Regions from separate parts of the Homo sapiens genome. Here region 2 is linked to region 1. The links come from fine-mapping of genetic effects on gene expression. Tissue or cell type: whole blood. Region 1 holds a variant in brackets; the other region holds the start of a gene. All regions are shown on one strand. Distances are between the middles of the regions.

What was found. PIP is the estimated chance that this variant, and not a neighbour inherited with it, causes the effect.
Region 2: CPNE5 starts here. The variant in region 1 is fine-mapped to the expression of CPNE5 in whole blood (INTERVAL, PIP above 0.99).

Annotation. Positions count from the first base shown.
Region 1 is chr6:36,743,296-36,745,976 of GRCh38, reverse strand. CPNE5 (copine 5) reads left to right here. Exons shown (of 21, transcript NM_020939.2): 17 at 462-589; 18 at 827-929; 19 at 1,652-1,709; 20 at 2,215-2,288. Among named protein-coding and RNA genes, the nearest start is that of RAB44, 47 kb to the right of the region's middle. RefSeq lists a silencer at 844-1,044. The variant C/G (reference allele first, on the strand shown) is at 1,236.
Region 2 is chr6:36,838,205-36,840,885 of GRCh38, reverse strand. It overlaps CPNE5 (copine 5), which reads left to right and starts at 1,442. Exons shown (of 21, transcript NM_020939.2): 1 at 1,442-1,603. The coding sequence starts at 1,509. RefSeq lists an enhancer at 1-84 and a silencer at 769-978.

The DNA.
Region 1 (2,681 bases):
GATTGCACAGGCCACCCCTTTCCCTGGCTCCCACGAGCTGGGGACACTCAGGCACAGCAGACGTCCCTCCCATGCCTGAGGGTGCAAGGTGCTGTGCTGGGCCCAGTGTGCACGTGGACAGATCAGCCACAGGTCCTTCCTGAGTTGCTGAGACCCAGCAGTCATTTTAGGGCAGAGTGGATTTACCCAAGGTTCCCTGAGGGAAGCAGCCAGGGATCTTGGGGCATCTCTGAACAGGTACAGGGAGCCGGGTAAGGAGCAGGTTTGGACCCAGCTCACCTGAAGCATGCACTGCTTCAGGATGGGCCCTGGGAGCTCCCTCCCCTGCCCCGCCACCCCACACCAGAGAAGACCTGGGGGAGCCCAGGCCTGCTGGCCTCCCCACCTGGACTCAGTTCCCACACATCGTGCACCCCTGTCCTTCCTTCCTGGGCTCAGCCTCCCTGCCCTCTGTCCCCCAGAATGGCAACCAGGAGAACCCCTCATGCTGTGGCATCGACGGCATCCTGGAGGCCTACCACCGCAGCCTGCGCACTGTGCAGCTGTACGGCCCCACCAACTTTGCCCCCGTGGTCACCCACGTGGCCAGGTGAGTGCCGCTGCCACCGCCTCCAGGCACTCACAAGGCCTCTGTTTCCACACCAGCTCTGCCTCTGGGTGGTGGGAGGGGGTTTCTCTTCCCACGCACTTGCCTTTCAGGGAGCCCTGACCCTGAAGAGATTCCCCCAAGAGCTGTCACCCTCCAAAGTGTTCAGGGTCCTTGTTTAGGGGGGAACATGCCCAGAGGTCCCGCAGACAGACCTGAGCCCACACCTGCCCCACCCAGGAATGCAGCGGCCGTGCAGGATGGCTCCCAGTACTCGGTGCTGCTCATCATTACTGATGGGGTCATCTCGGACATGGCGCAGACCAAGGAGGCCATTGTCAACGTAAGCAAGGAGTGTGCGGTGGGGGAGGCGGTTTGAGGAGTGTCTTCCTCCCCGTTAGGGGAACCCTGGGGATGTGCCTACCTCCTTGACCTTAGGGAAATGCTTGGAGATGACTTGGGCGTGGCTTCTCATTTCCCTGCCTCACTGGGCCCCACTGCCCTCATCCACCTTCTGGCCTCTGGCTGCAGAGTCCGGTGCTGGATAGTGGATTCTAGCGGGTGGAAGGGGTGCCCAGATCATGAGAGATCTGGCTGGTGAGCTCTGTTCCCACCTCTTAGTCACGCTCTGGTCTACTCCCTCCAGACC[C/G]CAATGACTCCCTCATTAACCCATCTCTAGGACCGCTTCCCCCTTTCCCAGGCCAGCCTGGCCAGGTCAAAGGAGTGGGAGGGGAGGCTCAGAGTTGGGGAAGCTCAGGAACATGGCTCCCCAAGCCGGTGGTCTCCCTGTAAGAGGGGATGGGGGTGACTCACCAAAGCAGACCTATGACCCATTCCCCCTGCCACCCTCCCTCTCTCCTCCAGGCGCAGCCTGGTTTCCTTTGCTCTTTATCTCTGAGTGCCCTCCCTCTCCCTACCCCCTTTTCTGTGTTTCTCTGTCTCTCCATGTTCACTCTCCCATTTCTTTCCTGCCCACCCCTTCCTGTCCTACCCCTGATTTCTCCTTCCTTTTAACTGGGTCCCAATTGGGTCCAACCTTTCCCTGCCCCCCATGCTGTCTCCCAGGCTGCCAAGCTCCCCATGTCCATCATTATCGTCGGCGTGGGCCAGGCAGAGTTCGACGGTGAGTCCAGCTGCTGCCTTCCCCTCCTTTCCTTCCCTAGCCACGCAACCCTGCCCCCACCCCAGATGTTTCCCCAGAGGCTGTGGTCCCCTGGGAATGACCCCTCCCAAAAGAGTGAGAGCTCCCGCCTGGGCGTGTGTGTCTGGGTGAGTGTGCAGGGTGTGGGACGCATTTGTTTGCTCAGGGAAGGGTGTGTCAGGTCTGGGTGTGCACCCACACCCACATCCCAAGGCTGTGGGGAGGAGGCCCCAAGTCACTTCTTTCTCCTCCAGCCCTGGGAGTCTGGGGAGGGTGGTGAACCAAAGCACTGGGCTCAAAGTCAGAGGCTCACCTGATCGGGCTCCTCCTGGCCCCTGGCCTCAGTTTCCTCATCTCTAACACGGGGCATGGGCCAGTGGTCTCGGCCCTGGATTGGCCTGGGATGAAAGGACAAGTCCACTCTCCTGCTAGGGCCAGGGGTCCACCGTTAATCTCACCCCGCCCCATGACACTCCTCCCCTCACAGCCATGGTGGAGCTGGATGGCGACGACGTGCGGATCTCCTCCCGGGGGAAGCTGGCTGAACGCGACATCGTCCAGGTGAAGCCCAGGCCTTGCCTGCCCCATGGGAAATTCAAGAGCCCCTCTAGCCAGGCGGACCTCACACCCCCTTTGGGGGCTTCCCTGGTGAAGGGCCCAGAAGGGAGGCACTGGGAGCCCCAAAGTGGCCCAGCCACCACCGAAGGGAGTAGGAGTCAGTCCTCGGCCATGCTGTGGTCTGGGCTGGGCCCCCCTCTGTCACATCTGGGACACACTCCTAACATTGCGGGTGCCCAGCCAGAGGCCAGAACCCTCTGCCAGCCCTTCCTCAGCCTCCAGGCCTCTGTGGTCAGCCTCGTTCTGGTTTTTTTCTGCCCCTTGAAGGCTGAGGCAGTGTCTTTAGTGTTGCTGCAGCCTTCTCCAAGAATAGGCATTGCTCGGTTAACTGAATCA
Region 2 (2,681 bases), 95 kb before region 1:
GCAACCTCATGCCCGGGAGGGCAAGGCTGGGCTAGGGCGGGGGATCGCGAGGGGCTTGGCTGGGAAGAGGACTGCAGGAGAGGTGTCCCAACTCTCCCCTCGCTCGCCAGGCACACAGCACGCGCCTACTCGGTGCTGGCTGCATAGAAGCCCAGGGAGCTCGGGCCGATCTCCCAGTCTGGTTGCCACCAGACTGGGTGGCAGGAGCTTCTAGACCTGGAGGCTGGCTCAGTCGTGTGGTCACGACGGGCGGGGGAGTGGAAGGGCGCTGGCGCGTGGTTTCGGCAGCCGACTTGGCGAGGCCGCGGCTGGCGGGAACCACGGATGGGGGAGGCGCCCATGCACCGACCCCACCTGGGCCACTGGGAAACCGAGGTAGTCCCTCCTGGCACTGGGGTCGCCCCCACACACCTCCCCAGAAGGAGATGTAGGGTCTGTTTCTGAACTGAGACCCGCCCCCGAGTAGGGCGCACACTCAGCAGAGACCCTCCACACCCAAGCCCCTGGGAGGGGATCTTTTTTGCACACCTCCCTCCCACTTATGCCCCCTCTCAACCCTGCATAGACCTTTCTCAAAAAGGCGCCCGTTGGTTCCCATAACCCTCCCCCTCCCCCAGGATGGAGACCCCTGATGGGAGATAGGGGTGGTGAGAGGGGGCGGGCGCAAATGAAGATGCGCGCGACCAGGACCACCTCTTGCTGTCACCCGCCACGTCCCCAGCATCTGGACCGCGTCCCCCGGCCCGCCACGCGCGCACACACACACACACGCGCACACACACACGCTCACACTCACCCTGCGCGCAGACCCCGCCCGCGGCCCCGCCCCGGCCCCTGCGGGCGCCCCCTCTGGCGTTCCCGGGCGGCGGGAGGCTGCGGCTTCGGGCAGATTTGATTTTCCCGCAGCCCGGGCGCCCCGGAGCCGAAGCCCGAGCCGAGGAGGTGGCGCTCGCAGCCGCGTCTCAGCCCCGTCGCCGCCGGCGCCAAGACCCAGGGAGAGGCGGCGCAGCCCGGGCGCTCGGGCTCCGCGCTGCCGGCGCCCCGCCACCCCCGCCGCCAGCGCCCCATCCGGCGCCTCCCGCTCCTCACGCCCCTCTCCCTGTCTTCTGCATCCCCTCTACCTCTGCCCACAGACGCGCGTCCCTCTCCTGGTGCCCCTCTCCACGACTCCGCGTTTCCCTCCCGGTGCCCTCTCCCCGAGCCCCTCTCCCCGCGCCCCTCTCTGCCTTCCCCGCTGTGCCCCCGCTCCCTGGGCTCCTTGCCCTTCCCCACTGGGCCCCTAGCCTCCTCGCGGCGTCACCCGAGCCCCCTCCTCGATCCGCGGCCCCCGCTCCCTCCGCCCTCTTCCCTCTCTCACTTCCCACGCCCCCTCTTCGCGCTCCTCTCTCCTCCCCTTGCCGCCCAGCCCAGGCTCTGGAGTTGGGGGAGAGCCCAGGGCTCCAGTCGCTCCGGAGGAGGCGTGAATCGCGCAGGGATTGACTAATTTGGGGTGGGGGGTGCGGTGGGCGATGGAGCAGCCTGAGGACATGGCGTCGCTGAGCGAGTTCGACTCCTTGGCGGGCAGCATCCCGGCCACCAAGGTGGAGATCACCGTGTCCTGCAGGTGAGCCTCCCGCTGGCCGGGTCCCCTTGCCCCGGCCCTGGACGCAGAGCCCCGCGGCCCCTGCCGCTTCGATCCTAAACCTCCGCGCGCCCCCTTCCCAGAGTGTCCTGGTCTCCAGGACTGCGCCCCTGCCGATCTGCCAAGAGCCCCTGTCCTGTCCAGCTGCGGGTGGCGACGGCAGAATAGGAAGCCAGGCTGGGGTCATATCCCAGAAAGTTTGCGCTCCAGGCTGTTGCATCGAGGAGATATGAAGACACAGGAACAGGGGGTCCAGGCACCCAAGTGGGGAGAGGGAGTTGGTAAAAGGCTGTACTACGGTCTCTGCTCAGGCTATCTCTGATCACCCCATCCCCAAATCACGAAGTGAGTGATTTGCCCCCATCCCTCCCAGGCTCGTCCACCCTCTCCCTTCTGTGCCCTCCTCTCTTCTCTCTTTGCCCCTTCTTTGCCCCAGCATCCTGATCCTCCCCTCACCAGTCTCCCCCACCCCACTGTCCTAGACTCTAGGATTTTAAAGCCTTCCTTCATCTCTATCAACAACGAAATCGACTCCTGGAAAAGGATCAGATTGACTCATTCATACTAAGGTGTGGATACATGATAACAACTTAAAGTGGCACCATTAAAAAAATAACTTGGGTCAAAAATCTTAAGCCAAAGGAATAGAACACTGATTGTGAAACTGTAGAGTCCAACAGAGGAGGAGGGGGAATATTTTTGTGGGCTACCACGCCCAAATCTTCACTCATGTCACACAGGGTTTGGGGGTAACTTCTCTGTCTAAGAGCTGGGTCGACCCCAGGTTCTCCTAGCTAGGGGAAGGCTGCCCCTGGCAGTAAGAGGGTATGGGTGGCAAAGGGGGATTTTTCCCTAGTTCAGTCTCTCTGTGGCTGGCCTAGGATCATGTGCTGCCACGCAAGCATCACCCACTTTGAGGTTCCCCCACAGAGGCCATGCCCCCTGCCCCAGATCACCGACAGCATTTCTGGAGCCCTGGCTGTGCCCTTGTTCGAAATCACCCATCTCATCCTCTTCCAGGTTGCTCCTTGGTCAGACCCTCCATGAGAGGTAACCTTGT